Regions from separate parts of the Homo sapiens genome. Here region 2 is linked to region 1. A link means that fine-mapping ties the variant in region 1 to the expression of a gene that starts in the linked region. Tissue or cell type: whole blood. Region 1 holds a variant in brackets; the other region holds the start of a gene. All regions are shown on one strand. Distances are from middle to middle.

Region 1 (10,817 bases):
GCCCAGCTGACTGTTACATTTTTTAGTTGTTGAAAAAACTAAAAAAAAAATACTTTGTGACACATGAAAATTATATGAAATTCAAGTTTCAGTGTTCATAAATAGCATTTATTGGAACACAGTCATGCTTAGTTGTTTAAATATTTTTTTATACCTGCTTTAATACTGCAGTCGCAGAGTGAAGTAGTTGTGACAGAGATCATGTGGACCACAGTAACTAAAATATTTACTACCTGGTCTTTTGCAGAAAGTTTGCCAACACCTGGTCTAAATAAAAAACACATCATCTTTCAAATACATCTCACTGTCTCTCCAGGTACTGCCTAAAAATCATACATCAGATGCTACCATTGAGAGATCTCTGGGGGCACTAGCAAGAGTATTTCAGTGCAAAAAAGATAAAAGGGTTGAGCAAATTCAACTTGTAAGAATGAAGAGACTTAGATGATAATGTCTGCTCAGGACAAGGTAGAAGGAAACAGGGTTATTGGTTCTTACATGACATATGGACTGACCATTCAGTTACATGAAATGTTATCAAGTTGAATACCTGAACTCAGTATTACACAACATTCACAAAACTAATGAGTCAGGAAAACTTTTCTAAGAAAAGAAAGTTTAAAAGTAAACCCTACCTTACATTCTAAATTTATTCAATTCAAAAGCAACAAATAAAAGAGATAGAAGTAATGGCTTATGCAAATTCTTATAATGGAAAAAAGAAATTTGAATTGGTTTGTAAATTTTAGAAATAGTCTGCTTTTTCACTACACACAAAAAATATGAACTTCCAGATTCAAAGCAATCCTAGAGGTTTTTTTAATGTATCCCCTGTTTTATTATACCATTACTACCTTAAAACATCCTTGGAAATTATCTACTATTGTCTCAAAAATCTCTTTAAGACTGAACAATCAAATGTGTTCACACAATCTTTTCTTATAACCTTAATACCTAAGCAATGTTTTTGATATAATCAAAACATTAAGAACAATTTTTCATCAGACAGACTAGTAAATTCATGACTTCCTTTTATTTTATTACCGATTTATTGTGTAGCTTAGATGAATATGGATTTTAGTAGGTTTTAATTGACACATAACATATTTATGGGGTACATAGTGATGTTTTGATACATACAATTAGAGTGATCGATTTAGGGTAATTAGTGTATCTATCATCTCAAACATTTATTATTTCTTTGTGTTGGGAACATTCAATATTCTCCTTCTAGCTATTTGAAACTATACATTATTATTAATAATAGTTATTCTACAGTGGTATAGAATACTAGAACTTATTCCTCCTATCTAGCTATAATTTTGAATCCTTTAATACATCTCTCCCTATTCCTCCCTTTCCCCTCCCCTTCCAAACCACTAGTATCTTTCATTCTACTTTTTACTTCTATGAGATCTACTTTTTTTTTAATCTTCTACATATGTGTGAAGGCATGCAGTGTTGAATGTTCTGTTTCTGGCTTATTTCACTTAACAAAATGTCCTCCAGTTCCATCCATGTTTCCATGAATGACAGGATTTTATTTTTTTATGGCTGAATAGTATTTCATTGTGTATATATACCACATTTTCTTTACCCATTCATGGACACCTAGGTTGATTCCATATCTTGGCTATTATAAATAGTGCTGCAATAAACATGGGGGTGCAGATGTCTCTTCAATATACTGATTTCCTTTCCTTTGAATAAATGCCCAGTAGCAGGATTGCTGGATCATATGGTACTTCTGTTTGTGTTTTTTTGAGGAACCCCCATACTGTTCTCCATAGTAGCTTCCCTAGTTTACATTCCCACCAACAGTGTGTAAGAGTTCCCTTTCTCTGTATCCTCACCAGCATTTAATTTTTGTTTTTTTGATAATAGACATCCAAACCATGGTGAGATATCTTACTGTTGTTTTTTATTTGCATGTCTCTGATTATTAGTGATGTTGAGCATCCTTTTATACCTTTGTTGTCTGTTCGTATTTCTTCTTTTGAGAAATGTCTGTTCAGATCCTTTGCCCACTTTTTAATCAGATTTTTTTTGCCTTTTTGCTATTGAGATGTTTGAGTTCCTTGTATATTCTGGATATAAATCTCCTGTCAGATGAACAGTTTGCAAATATTTTCTCCCATTCTGTAGGTTGTCTTTTCACTCTATTGGTTGTTTCCTTTGCTGTGCAAAAGTTTTTTGATTTGACATAATCCCATTTGCTTATTTTTGCTTTTGCTCTCTGTGCTTTTGAGGTCTCATTCATAATAAGTCTGTTCCCAAGCCAATGTCCTGAAGTGTTTCCCCTATGTTTTCTTCTAGTAATTTTATAGTTTTGGGTCTTACATTTAGATCTTTGCCCCTTTTACAGTTGATTTTTGTATAGAATGAGAGGCAGGGGTCTAGTTTCCTTCTTCTGTATATGGATATCCAGTTTCCCTAGCATCATTTATTAAGGAGATTGCTCTTTCCACAATAAGTGTTCTTGGCATCTTTGTCAAAAATCAGTTGACTGTAAATACGTGGATTAGTTTATGGGTTCTCTATTTTGTTCCATTGGTCTATGTGTCTGTTATTGTGCCAGTACCATGCTGTTTTTGTTACTACAGCATTGTATTATATTTCAAAGCCTGGTAATGTGATGTCTTTAGCTTCGTTTTTTTTGCTTAGGATTGTTTTGGCTCTTTGGGATTTTTTTTGTGTGTGTGGTTCTGCACACATTTTAGGTTTTATTTTTCTATGTCTGTGAAGAATGTCATTGGTATTTTGATAGGGATTGCATTGAATCTGCAGATTGCTTTGATTGGTATGGTCTTTTTAACAATATTTTTAATTCTTCTGATACGTGATTATAGGATGTCTTCCATTTGTTTATACCCTCTTCAATTTCTTTCACCCATGTTTTGTAGTTTTCCTTGTAGACGTCTTTCACCTCCTTGGTTAAATTTATTCCTAAGAATTTTATTTCATTTGTAGCTACTGTAAATAGGATTAATTTCTTGGTTTCTTTTTCAGATTTTTCACTCTTGGCATATAGAAATGTTACTAATTTTTGTATGTTGATTTTGTATCTGGCAACTTTACTGAATTTGTTTATTAGTTCAAAATTTGCATGGTAGAATCTTTAGGTTTTTCTATATATAAGATCACATCATCTGCAAATAGGGACAATTTGACTTCCTCTTTTCCAAACTGGATGCCCTTTATTTCTTTCTCTTGCCTAATTGCTCAAGGTAGAACTGCAGTACTATATTGAATAAGAATGGTAGAGCAGGTATCTTTGTCTTATTCCAGTTCTTAGAGAAAAAGCTTTCAGCTTTTTTTCATTCAGTAAGATGTTAGCTGCAGGTTTCTCATACATGGCATTTATTATGTTGAGGTACTTTATACTTAATTTACTGAGAGTTTTAATCATGAAGGGAGGTTTAATTTTCTCAAATGCTTTTTCTTCAACACTTAAGACAATTATATAATTATATGGTCTTTTGACCTTCATTCTACTGTTGTGATCCATGACATTTTGTTGATTTGCCTGTGTTGCACTATCCTTGCATTCCTGGAATAAATTCCACTTGATCATAGTGTGTTATCTTCTTGATGTGTTGTTGGATTTGCTTTGCTAGTATTTTCTTGAGAATTATTGCATCTGTATTCATCAGGGATGTTATTAGCCTGTAGTTCTCTCTCTGTCTCTCTCTCTCTCTCTCTTTCTCTCTCTCTCTCTCTCTCTCTCTCTGTTATGTCCATATATGACTTTTGCATCAGGGTTATGCTGGCCTCACAGAATGAGTTATCAAAAAGAATTCCCTTTGCTTTAATTTTTTTGAATAGTTTGAAAGAATTGTTATTCCTTTTTCTTTAAAGGTTTGATAGAATATAGTAGTGAAGCCATTCAGTCCTGAACTTTTCTTTGTTAGGAGACTTTTTATTATTGATTCACTCTTGTTATATGTTTTTAGTCTGTTCAGGTTTTCTATATCTTGATTCAATCTTTTTAGGTTGTCTGTGTCCAGTAATTTATTTATTTTCTTTGTGTTTTCAAATTTATTGGCATATAGTTGTTCATAGTACTCTCTAGTGATTTTTTACTTATGTGGTATTCATTGTGATGTCTCCTTTTTCATCTATGATTTTATTTGTTTGGGTCTTCTCTCTTGTTTTTCTTAGTCTGTCAATTTTTTATCATTTTCAAAGAAGTATTTTTATTCGTTGATTTTTTGTGTGTATTTTTAGTCTCAATTTCCTTTATTTGTGCTCTAATCTTTATTATTTCTTTCCATCTACTAATTTTGGGTTTAGTTTATTTTTGCTTTTCTAGTTCCTTCAGATGCATCTTTACGGTGTTTTAAATATATCTAGTTTTTATGTAGGCATTTATTACTATAAACTTGCCTCTTAATACTGCTTTTCTAAACTTGTACAAAGTTAATAATTTTTTTAAATACTGCTTTTGCTGTGTCTCAAATGTTTTGGTATGTTATATTTCTATTTTTATTTGTTTCAAGAAATTTTGTAGATTTTATTCTTAATTTCTTTCTTCACTCATTGGTTATTCAAGAGTATGTTGATTAATTGTCATGTATTTGTATATTTTCAAAAGTTCTTCCTATTACTGATGTCTAGTATTATTCTGTCATGGTTCAAATAAGATACTTGACGTGATTTCAATTCTTAAAAAATTTTTGAGACTTGCTTT[A/G]TGTCCTAACATATGGTCAGTCCTGGAGAATGTCCCACATGCTGATGAAAAAAATGTATATTCTGCATCAGTTGGGTGAAATGTTCTATAAATGTCTGTTAGGTCTATTTGGTCTGTGGCATGATTTAAATCCAAAGTTTCTTTGTTGATTTTCTGTCTAGATGATCTGTCCAATGCTGAGAGTGGGGTGTTGAAGTCCCCAGCTATTATTGTATTTCAGTCTGTCTCTTTCTTTGGATCTAATAATATTTGCTTTATATATCTGAGTGCTCTGATGTTTTGTGCATATACATTTACAGTTGTAATATTCTCTTGCTGAATTAATCAGTTTATTATCATATAATGTCCATCTTTGACTGTATAGCTTTTGACTTGGAGTCTGTTTTGTCTGATATATATATAGCTATTCCTGCTCATTTTTGGTTTCTAATTGCATGGTGTATCTTTTTCCATCCCTTCTCTTTTGGTGTATGTGTGTTTTTGCTGGTGAGATGAGTTTTTTGTAGGCAGCATATAGTTGGGTCTTAGGGGTTTTTTTTTAATCCATTTAGCCAATCTATATATTTTAAATAAGAAATTTAATCCATTTACATTCAAGGTTATGCTTAAGATGTACATAAATTTTATCTAAGCTTTAAGTTATTTATTTATGAATCTAAGATAATATGGAATATTTTAAGATTTTGACTAGAAACTTTATAAATTCCCTTATAGTTTCTGACACACTTCAAGTAAATACAAGGCATTCTCCTCATGATGTCTGCTATGTACTGAATGTTTGTGTCTCTCCCAAATTCATGTTGAAACTTAATCTCCATTGTGTAGTCTAACAGGTGGGGTCTTTTGGGGACTGATTAAAGGTTTTGCCCTTATTAATGGTATTAATACTATTATAAAAGAGGCTTCAGAGAGCTGCCTTTTTTTTTTCAATTCCTTCTACCATGTGAGGATACCGCATTTGTCCCTTCTAGAAAATGCATCAACAAAGCACCATCTGTGAAACAGAAAGCAAGCCCTCACCAGGCACCAAATATGCCAGCCCCTTAATCTTGGGATTCCCAGCCTCCAAAACTGTAAGAAATAAACTTCTATTACTTATAAATTTCCTAGTTAAGATATTTTATTATAACATTAGGAACAAACTAAGATGGTATCACTGACTCTATTTCTCAAAGTTAAAAATATGAGGTCCCCCAAAAGAACTAAGGAGTGAGCCACTGGGCTACAGGAAAAGGTGTATTAGCTTGAAGACAGAATGTTAGCACTAAGCACCACTTGTTAGCTTCATCATCTTGAGCAAGTCACTTAATCTTTTAGCTTCTGCTTTCTCTATTATCTAAGCACTTGTGCATATGTGTATTAAAGCCCTCTGTAGATGGTGAAGTGTTATAAGAGATGTAAGTTTGTATTATTGTCCTCAATAATTTTCCTTAGAGGCTCAAAGGAAACTGATTTAGAAACACAATACATTGCATATATAGAGCCAGATCATTTTTCAGCAAGTTTCCAATAATACCTACAGTTAAAAAATTATAGCATATATGTCACATGCAGCGTTACAAGTAAGAATTAAATAGGAAAATGTTCATGGGTTGAGGGAAATAGAGTACATATTGCTCTAACTCACTAATATTTTCTTTGTCTCATTGGGCTTGATAAAACCACTACTCTTGATTGGAGATTGCATACTACCTGGCAGGTTAACCTTTCCATACTACAGGATTTGAGTTCAAAAGCTGATGACAAAACCATCATGGGTCTAAAAACTCTTCTCAGTTTTACTTGGTAAGGCTGCTGAAGTTGCTATGCCTGTTAATTAACCCCTGAATCCCATCAAGGTAATTGAAGTATAAACTTAAGATGAAGACAGATAAAGTGAAGAATTTCAGAGCGTGCATCTTCCTGCCCTATGCCCTGTTCCTATATTGGTTCAACAAAAAGCAGATTCCATAGCATTAGTCTAGATCAACTAAAAGGAGTAAAGTATGCACTTTGAAATCAAACAAAAACATAACACCTCAGACAATATTGTCAATTATACATTTTACACATGTCTGATCTTACAGAAGTTTCTTGTTCTCCTTGTGTGTATTTTTCATATAGGAAAAGGATAAACAGAATTCACTGTTGTCTTTTCTTATTTAGTTAAATATTGTAGTATTAGACCACTGATAAGATATCAACTACTGTTATTTAGAAATTATTTTAGTTATAGACAATGATCTGTTTGGCTTTGTTGAAAATCAGCTCCAGGATCATCCTTCTTATATTTCCATTAACTATGAAATTAAATAGAGGGGGCAATTTTTAAAAAGAGAAATATTGCTTTTAGCCTGAAACTCTAAGTGTTGAATTTCTGCCTGCAGTGAGTTTTTTCAATTAAATTATAAACCATGGGTAATAGAGATTTATAATAGGAGAGCTGATACAATCTTAACTACAGGGAAACCATCCGACTCGCTCTATGCAGTATATGGATGGATTATTTGCATTAAATTATCTTTAGAAAATGCAAACAAAACAAAGAAATGTAAAGCTTGTCACATTATTAGCATAAAATTAAAGTCCTTGAATGCATAATTGTTCCATACCCAAAGCATTAATGGATTTTATTCTTAGAGTTCAAAGACCTCCTAATTAATATGCAAAATGGCCTCATTTTAAGCGAAAATTTTCTTCTTACTCAGAAAAGAGCCAGTTCTTTGCTGGAGGAAAATACTATGAAGTTTAAAAAACACTAACTAATATTGATATAAAAGCCCACACATCATATTGCCAAAAACAATAACCACTAGAAGCTATTAGAATATTTATAGCTCTTCAGCCTATTATGAGTATAAATTGTATGATTAGCCAAATAATACCTAGCTTAAGAAGATTTAAGTTCACAAACTCTAAAAAGAAAACACAGTCTTTCTCTGGAAATGTTTACTTACTTGAATAATAATTTTTTAAACTATTAAAAGGAAAGTAAATTTAATAGAAAGGGAAATTCTGGACCTACTAGTATAAATTTAAATTACATGACTTCAAATCTAATTTTACAAAGCAATTACCCTCTAATTTACATTGCTCTAGTTGCCAAGATTTGTAACAGGAAAAAAAATTTAAATTGCACGATTTTTTTAAAAGTGTGCAAAAAAATGGATGATTCTCCAGAATTCTAATTTTCTCTTATATTTCTAAATAAATTTTAGAATACTATATCCTTAAAAGTGATTTACTAGGTTTTTCTTAAATTTCTTTCCAATGTAGCTAGTACTAAATGACTGATTTTATTCTGAGTATTTATGTATTTTTAAACAATTTATGCTTTTTAGAGTTTGACACATTACAAATCAAACTACAACCACCACAATATTGTCATGTTTGAGAAAATACAGTAATTTCTTTCAACCAAGAAATAATGTTCCTCCAAAAGAGATATGAGGTCTTAAAATATAGTGCAGTCCCAAAGTGTCTCACTCATTTGAACAATGGCACAGAAATCTATAGGACTCAATCTCCCATTGTAATTACAGGTTCACTGCCAAGACTAGGAATAATATTCCCCTAACATGTAATATTCATATGGCAAATATGAATATTAAGTAGTTAAGAATCTACTATGTGCCAGGGAGTGTGCTGGGTGCTCATCATTATGATTATCCCATTGGGGCCACATATTTATATTTCACAATTTTATTTATGCACATTCATATTCACATTTGTATTTGCCAACTATAACCTGCTGTTAGAATGTTAGAATCCTTAATCAGAATGTTCGTGTACAAATATATGCCAAACACCTTAGAAAAAAGTTATTCTTTTAAAAAACTTTTCTAGAGTTAATAATGAAAGAAAAAACACCAATTTATTAATTTTTTCAAGTCCTTAACATGTAATCAATACTAAGTAAGCAATTGAGAATGAATGAATGGTTAGATGACAATATTAAACCATATTCAGGTAAGATTCCCATTCCACTCTAAATTAGCTAAAATCAGAGAAGTTTAAATTTACTTTAAAATTGAAGCAATATAGGTTACATATTTAAAACTACTTCAAATGTAAAAGTGGTTCTACTTATTAAAAGGTCTTGTCAATAGAAGATTCTGCTATTACCTCATTAAATAAGTATGTACAGGTAAAAAAAATGACATTTATCATTTGTTTCAAAAAATCATGTCCTAAAAAAGACTATAAAATTTGTTCAACTCAAGAAAGGGCCCAGTAACCCAGAATAACGGCTGAGATTTAAAGTGTTTTTCTACTTTTCCACAGGGAAAAAAAAAAAAAAAACTAGCCCTATGCAGACAACGGTTGAAATCAGCCCTGTGTAAAATGCTATAAAGAATGTGTAAAAAAATTACATTCTTTGATTATTTGTTGTATTTTAAAGTCTTAAGTGGGACATAACAAATTATTTCATTTATAAAGCACTCTACAATTTACCAAGTGTTTTCCTACAAGTCCCTTTCTTTTAAGAGTCTTAGTCTATCTCAAGGATGAGGCTCCCTTGAGAAATTGCTACCCACAGATCACTATCTGTGACTGTTATACTGTATTTCTGGCTAGTTAAACCATGTCTATAACATAGAATTCAATTCTGGATGCCGCATTTTAAGAGGGACATTGACTAATTAGAATGTAATGAAAGGCAAATGTCCAGGTGAGTGGGAGAAGCTATAATTTTTGATAAATTATTCAAGCAACTTGGGAGGTGAAGAATAAGAAAAGGCATAATAACTACTTTCAAATATTTGAAGAGCTGTCATACAGAGAAGAGTATACTAATTCTGTGTTGCTCCAGAGGCCAGAACTAGAATAAAAAGCCATAGGTTAAGAAATGTAGATTTTGATTGAATGCAAGAAATAACTTTTTGTCTACTGTGCTGTCCAGTAACAACAGCTGCTTCATGAGGGTGATACTAATCTCTGGAGTTTTTCAAGCAGGAAGTGGATGGCTATCACAGTTACAATTTTTAACAATTACTGCACTGGTTGGAAAGTTGAACCAGAAATCGCTAAGCTTCTTTCCAGGTTTCAAATTCTATTTGTCTATATAAAATGAAATGCATAAATGTAGCTCCAAAGGAGATTTTTATTATATGCTCATTTATCTGACAGCAAAATATTTAGATTTTTTAAAGTAAATATAAGATTTTGTGACACATGGAATGCTTACTCCCTAACAAAAAATCATCTGGTTATTTGAAACTCCTAATATGTATGAAACAAGAAGTATAGCAAGTTTCAGGCACCAGGTACTATAAGTTGTATTCATACATAAATAATCGCAATGTTAAGAAAATAGCTTTTATTTGTGAAGAAACTCTATGAATTCACTGTGAGTATAAGTGTAAGGATAATTTTACAATTCAAGAATAAAGGAAATTGGCCTGGAGCAGTGGCTCATGCCTGTAATCCCAGCACTTTGGGAGGCTGAGGCAGGTGGATCACTTAAGGTCAGGAGTTCAAGACCATCCTGACCAACATGGTGAAACTCCGTCTCTACTAAAAATACAAAATTAGCTGGGCGTGGTGGCGCATGCTTTTAGTTCCAGCTACTCCAGAGGCTGAGGCATGAGAATCACTTGAACCTAGAAGGTGGAGGTTGCAGTGAGCCAAGATCACACCACAGCACTCCAGCCTGGGTGACAGAGGGAGACTCTGTCCCAAAAAAAAAAAAAAGAATGAAGAAAATCATCTCACCTCTCTAAAGTGCCAGAACAGAATGGAGCAGATATTTTCCCTAAAAGGTTATAACTATTGGACAACAATTGTTCATTGGTTCCTTGAGTTCTCTTTGCATTATACATAGGACTAAAGAGCTAATATAATTATCTCCCAAGTATTGCTATCAGATATATGAGTGGCCTTGGTTAAGTAACTTACCCCAGTAGCCCCACTTTTTCAAAAAAGCAGATTAGATGATCTTTTTAGTTCTTTCTAGTTCTCAGGTCTATGACTTCTACACATACAACACCCCACTTATGCAGTCAAGCACTGTCAACCTTCAGGAGCAAACCATGAACTTAAAACCAATTTCTAAAACCTGTAATTGTACCAAGGGAAATTTGTTGTGATCAGTTGTTGTACTAACTAAAAGAAGATCCACTCTGATTAATGATGATGGCTATAAAAC
Region 2 (10,817 bases), 36 kb after region 1:
CTCCCAGAATGAAATGAATTACAAATTCCTCCATGCAACGCCTAGGGCCAGCCTACCACTCTGACTTCCTCTCTCCTCACTTTTTGCTTCAACTACCCATTTTATACCATGTCCTCAGTCTTGGGTGTCCCATCTCTGCCTCTTGCTCCCATTATCTCCAAGAAGGCCCTTAACTTTCTGTCTACTAAAATTTTGTCCAGTTCCACAGTTCCTCCCTAAGTCCCACCTAATGACTTCCATGGTATTTCAAACTTATTTTATGGTATTTTCATGTCCAGAATTATTGTGGTTAAACTAAATTAACATTTTTTCCAGCACTGAAATATCTTGATTTTCTTTTTAAACAACAACCAAAATGGGGGGATACAAAAAACTTTTAAATTGTACAGTCATACAGCTCTTGGAATTGTGCTAGTAGCTTGTAATCACGGATCTCACAGGTGCAGAAATCCCTGGTACCTGTGGTAAATAATGGGCCCAAAGATGTGTACATTCTGTTTCCCAGAAGCTGTGAATACGCTCCCTCACATGGCAAGAGAGCCTCTGCAGACATGATTAAGTTAACGATTTCGAGAGGGGAGTATTATCCTGGATTACCCAGGTGAGCCCTGAATGTAATCACAAGGGTCCCTATAAGGAGGAGACAGAGATTTTACTACAAAAGAAGGCAATGTATCCGCACTGAAGCAAGATGCTATGCTGCAAACTTTGAAGAATCCTTTTCTGATCAAAACCCTGAGACCCACAGTGTTCTCCAACCTGTGCCATATAAACACCTACCGGGTCCTCTCTGGTGCAGGGAACCACAGGAAAGAAACATGTTGGTAGTCCAGGGGGAAAGTCTTGAAAAGCTACTGAGCCAGCCATGTCAGTCCTTACCAATTTTCATTTTTCTCTGTGTTATTTTCTGGTCCTAGTCAGCAAACAGAATAGCAATGGGTGAAACTCCTGACTTTCACCTTAGAAAACTGTGACCGTCATACTAGTTATATGTTCGGAAGAAAACTGCCTTAGTTCTTTTAAGAATTGGAAAGGATTAGCATTCTTCCTAATTGGTCTTGGTAAATCCCCCTGCCCACCCACACATACACTGTAGCTGCAAAATAAGATTATACAAAATGATACTGTCATCTCTACAAGAAACTGAAAAGCCCAATAACATACTCCATTCTTCTGGTATTTAATGTGGCAATAAAATTACATACTTTTAAAAACTCATTTTCTCCCAAAAACTCTAGAAGTATGTATTGTACTCTTCCATATCTCATCTGCTTGACATTGTACAAGCAATTAAACTGGCTCCTTTCTGCCTCAGAATTTTTCATATGACACATGCACTGTAAGTCTGATTTTTTGTTTTCTTTTTTTGCCATAATAAAAAAGAAAACAAAGTTGCCCCTATCTGCTTTAAGGTTATTAACAGCTTAGAAACAGTGATTAGCAGAAAAATAATTATGCTCTAAATCTAATACTAATCTCTGCCCCTCCTTAGCCCCCCAGAACCTTAGTTAATAAGCTTAATTCACAAACTGATCATTCTCAACAAACATCTATGCCCTAGAAAACTTAAGGCTTGCCCCAGAAAACTAAAATCTCCATAAGTCCAAGGGTGTTTTCATGTATTCTAAAGACCCTACCAAAAGGGTCTTGCCCTCTTGTTCAAGTTGATACAAATTGACTACTTGTTGTTTCTAACCAAATCATTCTGTCTTATAGTAAGTGTATCATTTTCATACCTAAAACACAAACTGAAACAGGTTTCAAACCTTATGCTTCCTTACAAACATCAGAAAGTAAGCTCCTAAACACATTCCAAACAGAAATTCAAACTAGAGAAACTTAAACTTTTAGAACTCCAAATTCACACTAATGCTATTTTTAAGGTTTCATTCTACTTAATAAAATACAACACACAACAGAAACTCTATAAATGCAGTCAAATAACAGAAGACATTTTTAAAAAAAGGTAAAATTTAAGAGAATGGGTTTTTCAGGATTCACTAAGAGCCCATTAAGAAATTGTTTACATACCATATACATCTGACCTTCCCTACACTTGTGTTTTTTTTCTTTGCAATTGTTATATATCCTCAAGATACAACTTTGAAGAAAACCACCAAGAAACCTTCAGCACCCTCTCATACTTGGTAAGACAAGACTGTCTCCTCTTGCTCCCAGGCAGCTCCCAGGCAAGCATACACCAGTGCTTGTTTTATGCTTCAGTTGGATTTTTACATAAGTTTCAATGTAGCTTCAGAAGAAAAAAAAAAAAACTAAAAATAAATGAAGCTAAAAGTAGCAATCTCATCGGTTTTATAGAAGTCAGCTCAATACTGACAATCAGCATAAAACCGAGCTGAGCAGATTTAGAGGGGTCAATGTGTGACAGTCATGATTCATTTTATAAGAAGGCCCAAACTAATTTGAACATTAGTGTTGCTAAAATACAAAAATTCACTCTGCAGCTTCTGTGAAAACCTATTACATGATATTGGGTTCTCCCATCTTACAACTTTTTTATCTGTAAGATTCTTTCCAGAAGCACAACTCCCACATATAACGAACATTGACTATGGCCACATAATCTGTGTCACTCAATTTCCTCATCAGGAAAATGGTGATACAATACCAATCTCACGCCTCTCATAGATCCACACATACATGCACAAACACTCCCCTTTGGGATTGTTCTGAACATAAGTTGGCTCACACTCATATCTTTTCTCTGGGTGCTCATTATCGCTCTTTCTGCACAAGTATTTCCTTGCTTTCCAAGAACTATTTTCCTGATGCAACAGCCCCATCTCTCTATTAAGGAGCATGATGCAGTGCAAAGGCCCATACACCTGGAGCCTGGTGGTTATTTAACCAGTCTGAGTATCAGTTATCTTCTCTGTGAAGTAAGACCAATAGTACCCCTCATCAAGTAAGATGCATTTCAAGTATCACGTACATGGCAGGTCACCCCATCAAATCTGGCACCTGGACTGACTACAATGCATACAGAAAAACAGAATATCCCTAATGTGGTCTATCCACAGCCCTCCCTTGTAGATGGGAGTGTAGGGACTTACTTAATTTGCACCCCTAAGAGATGGTTATGCCTCTTACTAGAAGCTTACTATAACCATTGTAAAGAGATCAAAAGGCAGATAAAATCCCCTGAAATTCTCAGCATAAAATTAGTCCAGCTAAATGGAATCCAATTATTTAGCTTCTTCAATCTTACGGCCTTAATAGTTGATCCTTGGGTTAGCAGTCTGAGTCTTGCTGGGTTATCTTGTTACCAGGAATGCAATTCCTCTGCAACATTCTCCTGATTCCAGTGGCAAAAGGGAGAACCTTATTTGGGGGAGGCCAGAAAAGAACTAGTGTTTAGAGTGTTCTGGTATCAAGTGTGTATCCTCCAACCCAAACTGACAGTGATGGTGAGTGGTAGCCAGCAGTCTGCTGCATGTTTACTGTGGTCTGTTAAAGAAGTCCTTACTTTGTAAAAAGATGTTACGAAAATCATGGGAAAAAAAAAAAAGGCCTTTACCTTACCCCCTTAATTCCCACTTGTGAACATCAAACATCCCCATTTCAATCACTGAATTATTCTACCTCTCAGCAACAAAATGTCCTAAGTTGTTACACTGAATTCTTTTATAATTCAATTACTTATTGATGCCAGAACATGGAATTAAACTAATTAGGAGGCATGGCTTGAAAGTCATGCTCAATTTAACAGCAGATAAAGGGTTCACAGTGTTCTCAAGATTAAGAAACTGTTTTCTTTCTATGCTTACATTTTTGGGTTTTCTCTGACCCTTCAGCAGTGTTTTATGCTCAGCTGTGTACTAATGACCCAGACCATTACCAGTTCTTTAAGGTGTGATGGGAAATTGCAGGTTCATTTTTCCAGGATATTCCCAACTGAGCCATAATAAAGGAATTTAGGAAAACTGATGATCTCTTCAAATAGCTGCCTCAGGCAGAAGTAATTATCAATAAAGAGAACAGTGGAGACAGAGAGGGAGATGGTGAAGAATTATCCAATCAGAAGAGGGATGACAAGAAAACACTAAAAGTGAGTAAACCCCTTCATATGGATTTTAAACAATTGTTTCAAAAGATACAAGTCAGGCTGGGCACTAAAAAGAAAGCAACTCCATTACACTAATAGGTGCATAGTGCCTGGAACATAACAGTGCCCAATGAGTGGATGTGAGTGGATGAATGCAAGAAGGAATAAATGGAAGTCAACTCCCTGTCCTTCAGTGAATAACACACCCAATGGATATCATGAAGGATCTTAATCTTAAATGGTTTTCTCACAACATCCAGCCCATTTTTAGACTACTTTTTTTTTTTTTTTCTGAGACAGAGTTTCACTCTTGTTACCCAGGCTGCAGTGCAATGAATGGTGAGATCTTGGCTCACTGCAACCTCCGCCTCCCGGGTTCAAGTGATTCTCCTGCCTCAGCCTCCCGAGTAGCAAGGATCACAGGCGTGTGCCACCATGCCCAGCTAATTTTTGTATTTTTAGTAGAGATGGGGTTTCGCCATGTTGGCCAGGCTGGTCTTGAACTCCTGACCTCAGGTGATCTGCCCGCCTCGGCCTCCCAAAGTGCTGGGATTACAGGCATGAGCCACGCGCCAGGCCTAGACTACCTTCTTAAAGGTTAACCAATTTATGGTCAGAAAGCCAATTTTAATGGTAGCTACAATATAACATTAGAACGATAAATCTCATGCCCCAAACATGTACATAATGTATCTGAAAGCTAAGTGAAAACTGAGTCACTTTCTCATACATGGCAGTGTTTTTTCTTTTTTTTTTATTCAATAGAAGCCACATACAGGGACAGTAAGTTTCACCTATCATCAAAAAATAGTCAAAAGAACCTCTCTACACTGTAAGCTCCTAGAGGCCATGGGTAGCGGTGTCTCTGAAACCCTGACAAAGTCTGTAGGCAGCAGGGATTCAATAAATGTGGGCTAAATGACTAATAAAGCCCTCAAGAGCTTGTTTAAAAAAAAGTATCAGAAGGCCAGGCACCTGTGGCTCACGCCTGTAATCCCAGCACCTTGGGAGGCCGAGACGCGCGGATCACGAGGTCAGGAGATTGAGACCAGCCTGGCCAACATGGTGAAACCCCGTCTCTACTAAAAATACAAAAAATTAGCCAGTCATGGTGGCAGGCGCCTGTAGTGCCAGCTACTCGGGAGGCTGAGGCAGGAGAATGGTGTGAACCCAGGAGGTGGAGCTTGCAGTGAGCCGAGATCGCGCCACTGCACTCCAGCCTGGGGGACAGAACAAGACTCTGTCTCAAAAAAAAAAAAAAAAAAAAAAAAAGGCCGGGCGCAGTGGCTCACGCCTGTAATCCCAGCACTTTCGGAGGCCGAGGCGGGCGGACCACGAGGTCCGGAGATCGAGACCATCCTGGCTAACACGGTGAAACCCTGTCTCTACTAAAAAAAAAAATACAAAAAATTAGCCGGGCGTGGTGGTGGGCGCCTGTAGTCCCAGCTACTCGGGAGGCTGAGGCAGGAGAATGGCGTGAACCCGGGAGGCGGAGGTTGCAGTGACCCGAGATCGCGCCACTGCACTCCAGCCTAGGCGACAAAGCAAGACTCCGTCTTAAAAAATAAAAAATAAATAAAATAAAATAAATAAAATTCAGCCAGGCATGGTGGCACGCGCCTGTGATCCCAGCTACTCGGGAGGCGGAGGCTGCAGTGAGTCCAGATGGATCCACTGCACTCCAGCCAGGGCAACAAGAGAGACTCCACCTAAAAAAAAAAAAGTATCAGAAAAGCAATCAACTTGGAAATAGAATGCAGATAAAGTTGAGGTTGAGCACTGGATAAATGAAAAAGTTCAGTCAACAAACATTTACCTACTACCTACCAGGTGCCTGGAGTCATTACCAAACAGACCCTGCCCTCCTGCAACTTAAGACCTACAAATACCCGTGTAGAGTTAGAACCGGGGAGTGCTCTCGGGGGGGCCTAGGGCATAGTGCTTAGGAAGGACACAGAACAACGAGGGGGCGTCAGCACAGGCTTCTTTATAGGGTGAGATCTGAGGGGTGGGAGGCTGGGGGAGGGCCTGGGGGTGCGCACGCAGGGGCCCCCGGCTCCGGGAGCGGGACCGGCGGCAGAGGCCCCAGTGGGCCGCGCCGCTCTCTTAGTGTTTCTGGGGTCGCCTCACACTCCCGCCCGCTGCGACACCACTCCGGCCTCCGGGCGTGTCATTCCATCATTCAACTAACCCGGTCCCCATACGTGGGCCCAGGCGGGGTGCCCAGGCTCCGTGGTGGGGAGGAGACGCAAAGCGAACGCGGGTGGCCCCTGAGGGCGCCCTGTCCCTCCCGCGCGCGGGTAGTCACCTGAGCGGCTCAGCACCTCCCACTCGTGGGGCCTGCAGAAAATCGCGGCCAGGACCGAGAGCTCCTCCTGCACAGGCTCCGCCATGGCTGTGGGCCCCACCGCCTCAGCGCTTCCCCTTCCGCTGCCGCAGCCGCCGCCTCCACCGGCCAGGAGCAGCACTGCCCGCGGCCACCCGGGGGCGCCCCGCGCCTCCGCAACCGGGCGGGACGGGGGCGGGGCGAGACGGAGCTGGGGCGAAGCGAAACGGGACGTGGGCGAGGCGAGTCCGGGCGAGGGTCAGGGCAGACGGGGCGGGCGGGGCCCTTAGAAGTTCCGCCCAGAAGCTCCTGCTCAGTAACTACAGACGCGAAGCTCAGCCTCTCGGTTTGGGAATTTTCTTGGAGGCCGAGGCCCTGCGCCTCTGTCTGCACCCAAGGCGACCGCCCAGCTTACCCCCGGCTCTTCTGAGCACAGGGAGGCCTCCCAGCAAAGCCTGAACCCTCTAAGTTTAGCTGCAGGCTTCGAACCCCGACCGTCCCCGCCGAGCCTTGGGCTGCTGAGGTGGGGATGAACTGGGCGAAAGACACTTGGGAGTTAGGAAGAAACAAACAAGCAGGGAAGTGACCAGGAGACAAGGTGAGACTTTGCCCGGCTCAGGTCTGAACTGAGTGTTGGAGATAACCACAGTTAACAAAATAAACAAAATTATTCGCCCCCGTGGAGCTGTTAGCAACCCTGGTGCCTGGGAAGCCTGGAAGAGGCTCGGGTTAGTAACAACCTCCAGGATGCCCTCCGAACTGGTACTGGCGCCGGGACTCTAGACAAGGTCCAGATTCCCGGGCCCTTCCCCTTACGGGTGCAAAAAGGGAGGGTCAGGACCTGCCAGTCCTGGCTTCAGGATGTTGACTGGACGGACCTGGACTCATGGGAACTGTGCGCCAAAGTCCTGGGAGCAAAGTGTCATAACGCTCCTCGTTTGTCTCTTGCCTTCACAGGAGACAGCCCTGCTGCAAGCGGCCAGTGGGAATCCTTGGCCTTTGGGGGTATGATCCAAGAATGTAAACGCTAGCTTTTCAGTGTTTTCGATTTCGTGATATTCAATGCATACAATACAATGTGACTCTTGAAGCTTAATAATAAAATTATCATTCTTGAGCCCAGCACCTAAATTTTAAAATGTGAGCAATACCAATAGGGTAACAGAATAAGCAATCCATTCTGTTTTGACTATAGTGAACAAGATTACAAGACTTATCTGCAGTTAGGTCTGTCTCTCGGATGTTTGCCTGGTCTTTTTGCTGTTCAAATAACAGTTTAAAATTTGGCAGTCCCCACAAGCAGCTGGTCTTGCTCATGGAGTTCTCACAACTTTTGTTTGTATGAGAAATCACATTTCATGAGATAAATCTGGGAATTTAGGTTGTTAGGCAGTGACTCCAGTCACTGACCTACGGAAGTCAGAACAAAGTTGGCTGATTTTAAAACCCTGCATCCATTCACCATTACCATTCCCGCTGTTGGTAAAAAAGGAATCTGATAAAGGAAAAGATACTGGCTTCCCGGAACAGAAAGGAAACCTAACAAGATGGACTGCAGGGAAAATGCTTTTCAGAAGATGCCATGGGATTTCAGTGACCCCGAGTAATTAGGAGCACATAATTGGGAAGATGAAGGCTTATTTAAATGCAGTTATCTCTGATATGGCCAATTGGCTTGAAGAAAAAAAAAACTCCTTTATTTCCAAAATAACAGACGTTCCAGCAGTTCAGTAGGTTCATAATTAACTGCTAAAGAGATTGAACAAAAGAATACGTTTTTAATTTAAAATATTACTAAGTTATTTTAATTCGAAATCCAGTGTTACTATGAAAAGTCAAACAATTTGGTTTTTGACTTATTTATTGAAAATAATCTATAAAATAGGCTGGGCGCAGTGGCTCATGCCTGTAAGCCCAGCACTTTGGGAGGCCGAGGCGGGTGGATCACCTGAGGTCAGGAGTTCGGGACCAGCCTGACCAACATGGTGAAATGCTGTCTCTACTAAAAATACAAAATTTAGCTGGGCGTGGTGGCAAGCACCTATCATCCCAGCTACTCAGGAGGCTGAGGCAGGAGAATCGCTTGAACCCGGGAGGCGGAGGTTGCAGTGAGCCGAGATCGCACCTTTGCACCACTCCAGCCTAGGCAACCAAGCGAGACTCCGTCTCAAGAGCAAAAAAAAATCTATAAAATATTCAAATAGTTTTTACTTATTTTTAATTTTCCAAATTCACTATAAGTGAGATGAGTGAAATAACATGAAGAGCAAAATTACAGCTGTAGGAAGGATTAGGAGGCAGTTGCTAAAGCCTGCTGTCAGCAATAGGTCCATGAAAATTGATTAAAGAGTACATCAATCTATGATTTAAAATTTTCTTGTCAATAGGTTTCTTCTTTGCTCTTCCTTTCTCAGTTGATTTCTTAATCTGCTTTTCATACCTCATTTAGCATGTTTAAATAAAAAAGAAGTCAATGTGAATGTCTTTTAAATTGACACTATCCTAAGGCACTGAAGTCCCATGAATAAGTTTCTGCACTCTGACATTTGGAAATAATCATCTCAGAGACTGCATAATGTCAGCTTGATATTTCTTGCACTGTGAAAATATCAGCTACATGTCAAATCTCTAAAGTCTACCTTAATGTAATAAGTTTCCTCGTATTCACAGGCTACTGAAAATTCAAAATATTTAAATGTAGGATGAATGTCTACAGTTAGAGCATTGTCTACCTCCATCTCTCTCTCTCCCTTCTCACCCTTACACACACAAAGGTGTATGATTTGCTAGAACAATTATTATTTTTACAAGTATTATTTTTACAAGCAAATTTTCTAAATAGTTGCTTCCCCAAGACCATAAGGGGAAAAGGTTTAAAACCTTTCACCTTCAGTTAAAACCAATAACCCAGAAGATAGTTCTTTTCATTTTGGGGGGAAACAGTTCTACTCACTTTCTCATGAGTAGTATGTAGACTTACTCAACTCTGAGTTTGAAATCTTAAGTCAAAACTCACGTGAGCATAGAAATGAGAATGCACAATTTCAAGTGTATTAGGAGAGTTAAGTGTTATGTCAAAAAAAGGTGAGGATCCTAATACTGGAGTGGAGTGTGATAAGAAAAAATATCAAATCAAAACTGAGAAAGGTAAAAGTACTTTCATGAACCACCAAAACAACCAAAAGAGGGCTTAAATGCCAACTTCCTAAATAAATCTGAACTCCAAGAACCTGTGCTACTGGTTCTGTCTAAAGAGTTTCTGCATTCGCATACTCATTTCACAAAATGTTCTTAGACACTCACTGATTGTTGGCCGGGCTCTGCAGGCTGAGTGTGGAGAGGTGGAGAGTTAGAGATGAAAACAAGTCCATGTTTCCAGTGACTACAGCCTTTGGTCTAGACAAGTAAACACAATATGAAACAATTACAAATTCTTTCACCAAGCTGAGCATACAAGAATTATCACATTTCCTTAGCGGTGTAAAGTTCAATATTATGATGTAGGTTAAAGTAACAGAGTAGGAGTAGCATATACCTCCCACAATTTCCGAGGGGAGAAATAATTTGGAAATGCTCAGGAACACAGTAGCCCTCCAAAAGTACACAAAGTCTGGGATGTTAACTAGTCATAGTTGTTTTGTTTTGTTACAGTATACAGATCGTAAATTTATTTTTCATAATGATAAAAGCAAATAAAATCTATGAGAATTTGCCACTGGCTCTGTGATCATACCCTTGTGTGGAAAGATCTGCCTCCATCATGTCCAAGTAATCTGCACTCCCTCCAAAATATCGGCTGCACTCTGCCATGCTTGATTTCTATGCATGAATGGTATCAAGACAGTTCCAGCTTGCTTTATGGGAACCCATCCATATGGCCCAAATCCACCAATATAAAAGCTCAATGCCTTCTCAATGTTATAAAAACAAGTCACTGGTATCATTGGGGTTTTTGAGTTTTTCTAGTTAAAATAGTATCCAATATTTAATTTTGGTGACTATTATAAATGGATTCTTCTTATTCATTATATTTTCCCACTGTATTACTAGTGTAGCCAGTTTTTATTATCTAAAAGAGGGCTGAGGATTGTGTGACTTAAATATCCTTTTCTCCAAACTCATAAAGGGACTATCCATGAGTAAACTCTGCCATTTTAGCAAAAGTGATTGAAAATGGAAAGACAGATGTATATCAAGGAACCACAGGTAAAACTGGGAAAATTAGACTTGGATTTCCTTTTTAAAAATTATAGTGGAAGGAGGGAAGAAGGTAGGAAGGGAAAGAGAAAGAGAAAAAAAAAGAGGTAGGAGGAAGAGGGGAAGGGGGAAAAGGAGGAGAAATAGGGAAAGAAAAGATTGATTTTTATGAGGCAAAAGAAGTCATGAGTTAGGAATTTGTCTTTATGTAAGGAAAAAGTAAAAAAG

Evidence for each region. PIP is the estimated chance that this variant, and not a neighbour inherited with it, causes the effect.
Region 2: it holds the start of RWDD3, and the variant in region 1 is fine-mapped to the expression of RWDD3 in whole blood (TOPMed, PIP above 0.99). The same link has a PIP of 0.9 or more in blood mononuclear cells, lung and monocytes.

Annotation. Positions count from the first base shown.
Region 1 is chr1:95,265,779-95,276,595 of GRCh38, reverse strand. No RefSeq gene overlaps it. Among named protein-coding and RNA genes, the nearest start is that of RWDD3, 37 kb to the right of the region's middle. The variant A/G (reference allele first, on the strand shown) is at 4,691.
Region 2 is chr1:95,229,873-95,240,689 of GRCh38, reverse strand. It overlaps RWDD3 (RWD domain containing 3), which reads right to left and starts at 6,480. Exons shown (of 4, transcript NM_015485.5): 1 at 6,375-6,480. The coding sequence starts at 6,459. TLCD4-RWDD3 (TLCD4-RWDD3 readthrough) reads right to left here. Exons shown (of 8, transcript NM_001199691.1): 7 at 9,696-9,788. RWDD3-DT (RWDD3 divergent transcript) reads left to right here and starts at 6,708. Exons shown (of 4, transcript NR_125949.1): 1 at 6,708-6,990. RefSeq lists silencers at 6,020-6,199, 6,410-6,739.